Regions from separate parts of the Homo sapiens genome. Here region 1 is linked to region 2. Evidence: fine-mapped expression QTL. A gene starts in region 2. The other region holds a variant in brackets. All regions are shown on one strand. Distances are between the middles of the regions. Region 1 overlaps OLFM2 (olfactomedin 2). Region 2 holds the start of FBXL12 (F-box and leucine rich repeat protein 12).

Evidence for each region. PIP is the estimated chance that this variant, and not a neighbour inherited with it, causes the effect. A credible set is the group of variants that fine-mapping cannot tell apart.
Region 1: its variant is the best candidate, but not a certain one, in a credible set for the expression of FBXL12 in cerebellum (GTEx, PIP 0.70).

The regions. Positions count from the first base shown.
Region 1 is chr19:9,884,077-9,888,461 of GRCh38, forward strand. All of the region lies in intron 1 of OLFM2 (olfactomedin 2), which reads right to left. Among named protein-coding and RNA genes, the nearest start is that of OLFM2, 50 kb to the right of the region's middle. The variant T/C (reference allele first, on the strand shown) is at 1,935.
Region 2 is chr19:9,817,147-9,821,531 of GRCh38, forward strand. It overlaps FBXL12 (F-box and leucine rich repeat protein 12), which reads right to left and starts at 1,933. Exons shown (of 3, transcript NM_017703.3): 1 at 1,582-1,933; 2 at 1,399-1,471. The coding sequence starts at 1,667. It overlaps LOC124900430 (small nucleolar RNA SNORA70), which reads left to right and starts at 2,808; the gene lies at 2,808-2,948. It also overlaps the pseudogene RPL10P15. RefSeq lists silencers at 1,425-1,584, 2,035-2,124, 2,345-2,494.

The DNA of each region.
Region 1 (4,385 bases), 67 kb after region 2:
GGGTAACATAGTGAGACCTCCGTCTCTAACAAAAATACATAGATTAGCCAGGCATGGTGGTGCGCACCTGTAGTCCCAGCTACTTGGGAGGCTGAAAGAGGAGGATCACCTGAGCCCAGGGAGGTTGAGGCTGCAATGAGCTGTGATCATGCCACTGCACTCCAGCCTGGGTGACAGAGTGAGACCCTGTCTCAAAAATTAAAAAAAAAAAAAAAAAAAGCCCAGGCACAGTGGCTCAGGACTGTAATCCCAGCACTTTGGGAGGCTGAGGCAGGCGGATCACAAGGTCAGGAGTTCGAAACCAGCCTGGCCAACATGGTGAAATCCCATCTCTACCAAAAATATATAAAATTAGCCGGGTGTGGTGGCAGGTGCCTGTAGTCCCAGCTACTCGGGAGGCTGATGCAGGAGAATCGCTTGAACCTGGGAGGTGGAGGTTGCACTGAGCCGAGATTGTGCCAGTGCACTCCAGCCCCAGGTCTATGGGACTGTAGAGATGCTGGTGTTTCTACAGCTAGGACTCGCCAGTTCTAGGCATTCTTCAGAGCTCACAGCAAACACCACCACCTCCAGGAAGCCTTCTCCATCATCTAAGATAGGTCTGTGTTCCTTCCTGTGCACATCTCCACAGCTCCCTGCCCCTTCCCTCCACAAAGTTCTTATATTTTATTCTTTTCCTTGCATGGTGGGTGTCTGCATGCCCCATTAGGATGTGAGCTCCAAAAGGGCAGGGCTGAGTCTGTCTTCTTCCATGCTATGGTCCCAACACCAGCAGATGCTGGAGACAATGGACAGGCATCAAGATATGAATGAATGAATGAATGCTTCCTGTACACTCCAAGTTTTCCATGTGACCCCTTCCTCCCCGACTCCCCAACACCCTCTGTCTGCTCTCTTCCTCCTTCCTCTCCCATCACAGGGTGGATACAGGGGCTCTGGGTTTTGAAGCGGTCATGGAGTCAAAGGTAGTTGAGTGTAGCTGTGAAGCACATGGACCCTGGAGGCCGACAACTTGAACTTCAAAACCCGGCTTCTCTTTCTAGCTGTGTGACCATGGGAAAGTGACTTAACCTCTCTGTGCCTCACTTTCCCCACCTGCAAAATGGGAGTGATAGTAGTGCCTTACTGTTGAGTGAGTGATTCTGACCCATTCCCAGACTGCAATTCCCAGACTGGGAGGCAGAGGGCTGAGTCTCCGGCAGTTAATGAATCCGGAAAAAATCTCAGCTGTGTCAGAGGAGCCCCAGTGCCAAGTTGGCCTGGTTTTCATCCCAAGAGAGCTGAGAACATGGTCTGGTGTCAGACATCCACGCTGTGATTGGCACAAATGCCTGGTGCTCCTATGACCCCCCTCGTTAGGGCTGGGGGAGTGTGGGAGATGCTCCTGGGGCTCTGCCCAGAGCTGCTGACTGCCTAGATGTACCCACCCTGCAGCTGCTGAGCACGGCGGCTCATTGCTAGCAGCTGTGATCTTCTCTGGACCTGCCCATGGCTTTTGGGAGCCACCACACCTTGGAGATGCTTGGGAGGTGTCACCTACTCCCAGGGGCAGCTAATGACTGATGCAGGGGTAAAAAGCCCACTCCTCTTCTCATGGTGAGATAACTCCACAGTGTCCCCCCACCCTTGTGGAGCAAGCCAAACCGGGACTTTACCTAGGATCTCATCTTTGCTCAATCTATTCTCTTCCAGGTCCTGCTCCCCTCACCCCTGCCCTGACTTTCAATTATGTGCTCCACAGTCAGGCACGGTGGCTCATGCCTGTAATCCCAGTACTTTGGGAGGCCGAGGCAGGAGGATCATTGAGCCCAGGAGTTTAAGACCAGGCTAGGCAACACAGCAAGACCCTGTCTCTACAAAAGATTAAAAAATTAACCAGGTGTGGTGGCGCACACCTGTAGTCCCAGCTACATGGGAGGCTGAGGTGGGAGGAT[T/C]GCTAGAGCCCAGAAGGTTGAGGCTGCAGTGAGCCATGATTGCACCCCTGCACTCCAGCCTGGGCAACGGAGCAAGACCCTGTCTCAAAAAAGAAAAAAAAAAAGTGCTGGAAACTTACGTCTCTAGTTCTGCTTCTCAGGAACCCAACCTAAGATGGGGGAAATGATGAACATTCAACCTAAGAGGGTTTTTGTTTTTGTTTTTGTTTTTTGAGACAGAGTTTCGCTCTTGTTGCCCAGGCTGGAGTACAATGGAGTGATCTTGGCTCACTGCAACCTCTGCCTTCCAGGTTCAAGTGATTCTCCTGCCCCATCCTCCCGAGTAGCTGGGATTACAGGCACACACCACCATGCCCAGCTAATTTTTTGTATTTTTAGTAGAAATGGGGTTTCACCATGTTGGCCAGGCTGGTCTCGAACTCCTGACCTCAGGTGATCTGCCCACCTTGGCCTCCCAACATGTTGGTATTACCGCACTGGGCCCTAAGAGGGTATTTATGTCAGTGTCCCTTCAGGTTCACATTCACACCCTGGCACCGAGTTCTGTCATTTCCACCTAAATAGGCAATCCATCCTGCACAACCCCGAAAGCAGCCCTCACTTCGAAATGCATCCTCGATTCTGCCCAGTCTGCCTCGTCCACATGTGCAGCCCCTGTCATGCTCCAGGACCATCCCTGATGCATTTTTCCGCACCTTACATTCATCTCGTTTCTTTTTCTTTCTTTCTTTTTTTTAAATCTCAGCTCACTGCAACCTCTGCCTCCTGGGTCCAAGCGACTCTCCTGCCTCAGCCTCCCAAGTAGCTGGGATTACAGGCATGTGCCACCACGCCTGGCTAATTTTGTATTTTTAGTGGAGACAAGGTTTCACCATGTTGGCCAGGCTGGTCTCAAACTCCTGACCTCAGGTGATCTGCCTGCCTCGGCCTCCCAGTGTTGGGATTACAGGTGTGAGCCACCGTGCCTGGCCTCATATTATTTCTTGTCTGTCGCTCTCATATGTACACTCCCCAAAGGGCAGGAATTTTTATCACTTTGTTCATTGCTGTGTCCTCAAAACAGAACAGTGCCTGGCACGCAGCAGGTGTTCAATAAACATCTCTGGCATTCAAGAATAAATCGTTTAAGTACATTCACTTGCAAACAGAATCCACCCAATTTTTCTTTTTCTTTCATTTTTTTTTTAGATGGAGTCTCGCTCTTGTTGCCCAGGCTGGAGTGCAGTGGTGTGATCTTGGCTTACAGCAACCTCCACCTCCCGGGTTAAAGCGATTCTCCTGCCTCAGCCTCCCGAGTAGCTGGGATTACAGGCACACACCACCACCCCCAGCTAATTTTTGTATTTTTAGTAGAGATGAGGTTTCTCCATGTTGGCCAGGCTGGTCTCAAACTCCTAACCTCAAGTGATCCACTTGCCTCGGCCTCCCAAAGTGTTGGGATTACAGGCATGAACCACCGCACCGCCCACCCTCTCTTTCTCTTATACCAATGCATCAGCCTTACCTTTAGAATCTACCCATTGCTCTACCCTCTTGATGGCCATCTCCATGGTCAAGCCCCTGGCATTGCTCACCTGAACCAGCAGAGTTCATCCCTTCCATGGTCTCCCAGTTCCCCCTACTTGCCCCCACAGTCTGCTTCCCCCACAGCAGCCAGAGAGCACCTGTGAACACATGAATCACACTGAGTCTCTCCCGTGCTGAGAACCCTCCATGGCTCCCATCTCCCCTGAGTTAAAAGCCCAAATCCTCAGCCAAGCGTGATTACACCTGTAATCCCAGTATTTTGAGGCCAGAGGATCACTTGAGCCCAGGAGTTTGAGACCAGCCTAGGCAACATAGTGAGACCCCATCTCTACAAAAAATTAAAAAATAAGCCGGAAGTGGTGGCATGTGTCTGTAGTCCCTTCTACACAGGAGGCTGAAGTGGGAGGATCGCTTGAGCCTGGGAGGTCGAGGCTGTGGTGAGCCATGATCTCTCCTTGTCTCAAAGTAGAGTTCTCCCCAAGGCACGTAACTCCTTCACAATCTGTCCCATCACCTCCCTGCCCTCACTTCCTTCCACTCTCCCTCTCACTCACTCTGTTCCAGCCACACTGTTCCTGCAAAACCCCAAACATATTTCTTCTATATCACCTCTTTGCACTGGCTATCCCCTCTGCCTGAAATGTCCTTCCACCTCCTTCAGACCCTTACTGAAATGTCATTGTCTCAAAAGACCCTCCCTGCTGGCCTGGCGCAGTGGCTCATGTCTGTAATCCCAGCACTTTGGGAGGCTGAGGTGGGTGGATCATTTGAGGTCGGGAGTTCGAGACCAGCCTGGCTAACATGGTGAAACCCCCGTCTCTACTAAAAATACAAAAATTAGCCGGGTGTGGTGGTGCGTGCCTGTAATCCCAGCTACTCGGGAGGCTGAGGCAGGAGAATCGCTTGAGCCTGGGGGGCGGAGGT
Region 2 (4,385 bases):
ATGAACCAAGAGAGAAAGAAACATGTTTTAATGAATCTTCTCAGGCGGCTGAGGCAGGAAGATGGCTTGAGCCCAGGAGATGGAGGTTGCAGTATGTTATGATTTTGCCACTGCCTGGGTGACAGAGTGAGATCCATCTCAAAAAAATAAATTAGAAAAAGATAAACTGCAGAGCATAAATGTTATGGGCTACTTTTGACAGAGGAATCAAATCTTCCTTGCCAAATTTAGACCCGTGTGGGTCAGCAGAAATTGACTAGAAATAGTGGCCACCGAATGGTAACTCACAAGGGTAGCAGTTAAAGTTGGTAAAATTTTAAATGCACACAAAACCAATGGACGAATCAACTTTTCCTCGCAAAACCAACAACTAAGTTTCAACAACTGAGAAAAAGTTTCATATTATCAGGCCAGACACTGTGGCTCACACCTGTAATCCCAGCACTTTGGGAGACTGAGGTTGGGGGACAGCTTCAGTCCAGGAGTTCGAGACCATCCTGGGCAACATAGCAAGACTCTGTCCTTAAAAAAAGAACTTCAAAAGCAACTGTATTAAAGGGAGTTACAGATGGATATATACAGTAAAATTGTTTAAAAGTAGAACACTATCTAAATAGTAGAACAGCATTACCCGAAGTTCAGAAATACATTACTAACACTATAATTGTTTTTGGACACACACATATGAAGTAACGTAAAAGGAAGGGTGCAAATTCACTTTATAATAGCAATTATCTATGAAGACAGTTTCAAAAAGGGCAACAAATATATCTATAAATGTTTTGAGCCAGTTGCTGTGGCTCATGCCTGTAATCTGAACACTTTGGGAGGCTAAGTCGGGAGAATCACTTGAGCCCAGGAGTTCGAGACCAGCCTGGGCAGCATAGTGAGACTCCGTCTCTACAAAAAATAAAAAATTAGCAGGTGTAGTGGCGAGCGCCCGTGGTTCCAGCTACTCAGGAGGCTGATGCGAGAGGATCGCTTGAGCTTGGGAGGTCGAGGCTGCAATCGCACCACTGCACTCCAGCCTGAGCAGCAGAGCGAGACTCTGTCTCAAAAACAAAACAAAAACTTGATAACATAGTCATAAATTAGCATTTATCGAATGATAAATATGTGCCAGACTGTTCTAAGCCCTTTCCCTGCGTGATCTCAGTGAAGTCCCATAATAGCCCCGTGAGGCAGGTACTGTCCTTTATCCCCATTGCAGGGATGAGGAAATTGAGGCCCTGAGGTCGAAGAGGAGCTGGTAAGCGATGATGCCGAGATAGGCCCCGGATCGCCTGGCTCTAAATCCCCAGCCCGGGCCCCGACACACAGTCCCAGGGTGGGAGAGGTGGTCTTCGGGGTCCGGGCACCGCGACCGCGGCCCAGGCCCGCCCGGCCAGCTGCGCGTACCGTGTAGAGCGTCAGGTCGACATGTCGCCACAGCCACCGGTCGTCCACCAGCCTCTTCCAGCGGTGACAGACCCTGGGGGAGGGGACGCGCGGTTAGAACGACCCCAGCCCCGGGCCACATCGCATCTCCAGGTGCCAGCTGCGCCCTCCGCCCTGCCCTTCCCCCCGGAGGCGGGGCCGCACCTGGAGATGCGGATCCGGTCCCGTACCGGGAGGTAAGAGAAGATCTCGAGCAGGACCGAGTCCGGCAGTTCGACCAAAGTCGCCATGATCCCGCCGACACGCACTTCCGCTTCCGGTTAAAGAGACCCGAGGGGTCCTGGGGGCGCCGAGGCGGCTGACAGGGCGGCGGCCGCGACCTTCCCGTAGCCGGTCGAGAAATTTGACCTTCCTCTCGCTGGGAAGTGATTCGGTCCCAGGGCCGGACCAGCCGCGGATGGGGACCAGAAACCAGCCTGGAAAGCGTGGCTGAGGCAGTGAGAGGCTTGCGGGAGGTGGCTGAGGCGTGATTTGGCCGCGACTGGGAACTAAGACCAAGTCCAGAAGGCGGGGCTGGAGTGAGGCGAAGCTCGGAGGCGGGGCTAGAGACGAGGACCAAGTCCGGAAGGCGTGGCCGGGGTGGGGTGAGGATCGGAGGCGGGGCTAGAGACCAGGACCAAGTCCGGAAGGCGTGGCTGGGGTGGGGCGAGGATCGGAGGCGGGGCTAGAGACGGGGACCAAGTCCGGAAGGCGTGGCTGGGGAGGGGCGAGACCCGGGGACGGGGCTAGAGGCGAGGCCCAAGCCCGGAAGGCGTCGCTGGAGTTGGGCGAGGCTCAGGGGCGGAGCCAGAGAACGGAACCAAGTCCAGAAGGCGGGGCTGGGGCGCGGCTAGGGGGCGGGGCTAGAGACGAGGACCAAGTCCAGAAGGCGTGGCTGGGGTGGGGCGAGGATCAAGCCCGGAAGGCGCGGCTGGAGCGGGGCGAGGCCTAGGTGGGGCTGCAGACGAGAACCACGCCTTGGAGGCGTGGCTAGGGCGGGTAGAGGCTCGGACAACCGCTGGAAGGCGGGGCTGGGGCGGGGCGAGACCTTGGGGGCGGGGTTGACGACGAGGACCTAGCCGAGAGGTCGTGGTCTGGACGGAAACCAGGCTGCAGCAGGACCAGGCGCCAAGGGCGTGGCTGGGGAGCGATGGAGACGCTCGGAAGGTGGGGAGCGGGGGACGGAGACAGGGAGAAGACTACGCCATGAAGGCGTGGTTGAGGCGGGGCGAGGCCTGTGGGTCTGGCCCCGAGCGAATGGCTTGGTAGAGAGTCAGAGAACTCTATTTTTTTACTTAATGATGCTTCTTGATGTCTATGCACAAGGATAAATTTGTATTACTGGAATATCGTGGCCAAAGGACCTGTTGAATTTTTCACTTTCATTGATACTACAGATATTTTCTGAATTGGCAAGTCCACCAAGAAACTATAAAAATGTGTGTGTGCAATGGCTGCACACAGCAGCTTCCTTGGTAGTGTACGCAGCCTGTTGGTTGTATGGGTTGCTCTAAGGGACCTTGGAGACAGGCCTTTCCGATGGATGTTCATGTTTCTAACCTTGCACTACCACAATGTAGGCTCCAAACAGGCATGTGAGGTGCCTTTGGAAAGCCCCAGGGCACTGTGGCCAGGGTTGACATTGGCCAAGTTATCATGTCCATCCGCACCAAGCTGCAGAACAAGGAGCATGCGATTGAGGCCTTGCGCAGGGCCAAGTTCAAGTTTCCTGGCCGCCAGAAGATCTACATCTCAAAGAAGTGGGGCTTCACCAAGTTCAATGCTGATGAATTTGAAGACATGGTGGCTGAGAAGCGGCTCATCCCAGATGGCTGTGGGGTCAAGTACATCCCCAATCGTGGCCCTCTGGACAAGTGGCTGGCCCTGCACTCATGAGGGCTTCCAATGTGCTGCCCCCCCTATTAATACTCACCAATAAATTCTACTTCCTGTCCAAAAAAAAAAATGTGTGTGTGTGTGTGTGTGTGTGTGTGTGTATATATATATATATATATATATACACACACACACACACACGCACGCCTCCTGAAGCCAGGAGGCGGAGATTGCAGTGACCTGAGATCGCGCCACCACACTCCAGCCTGAGTGACAGAGCGAAACTCCGTCTCAAAAAAAAAAAAAAAGAATATGAAAGAGATTGTGGAGGTTGCAGTGAGCCCAGATCGCGCCACTGCACTCCAGCCTGTGCGACGGGTGCGAGACTCCATCTCAAAAAAAAAAAAAAATCATGTTACTGCAAAGGACATGATTTCATTATCTTTTTTTTTTTTTAAATTTGGGACAGGGTCTCTCTCTGTCACCCAGTCTGGAGTGCAGTGGCGAAATTATAGCTCACTGCAGCCTTAACCTCTGGGGCTCAAGTGATCCGATCCTTCCACCTCAGTCTCCCGAGTAGCTGGGACTGTAGGCACATGCCAACACGCCCGGCTAATTTTTGTTTTGTTTTTTGAGATGAAGTCTTGCTGCATCACCCAGGCTGGAGTGCAGTGGCACAATCTCGGCTCACTGCAACCTCCGCCTCCCAGGTTCAAGTGATTCTCCTGCCTCAGCCTCCCGAGTAGCTGGGACTACAGGCGCCCGCCACCATGTCCGGCTAATTTTTATGTTTTTAGTAGAGATCAGGTTTCACTATATTGGCCAGGCTGGTCTCAAACTTCTGACCTCAGGTGATCCACCTGCCTCAGCTTCCCAGAATGCTGGGATTACAGGTGTGAGCCACTGCGCCCGGCTAATTTTTGTATTTTTTTCTAGAGCCGGGGTTTTGCCATGTTGCTCAGGCTGGTCTTGAACTCCTGGGCTCAAGTTCTTCCTGCCTCAGCCTCCCAAAGTACTAGGATTACAGGCGTGAGCCACCACGCCCAGCTGATTGCATTTTTTTTATGGCTGCATTACGTGTGTCTTCTTGGCTTGTTGCCCTCCTATATCAGACTGAATTCTGGGGTGGCAGG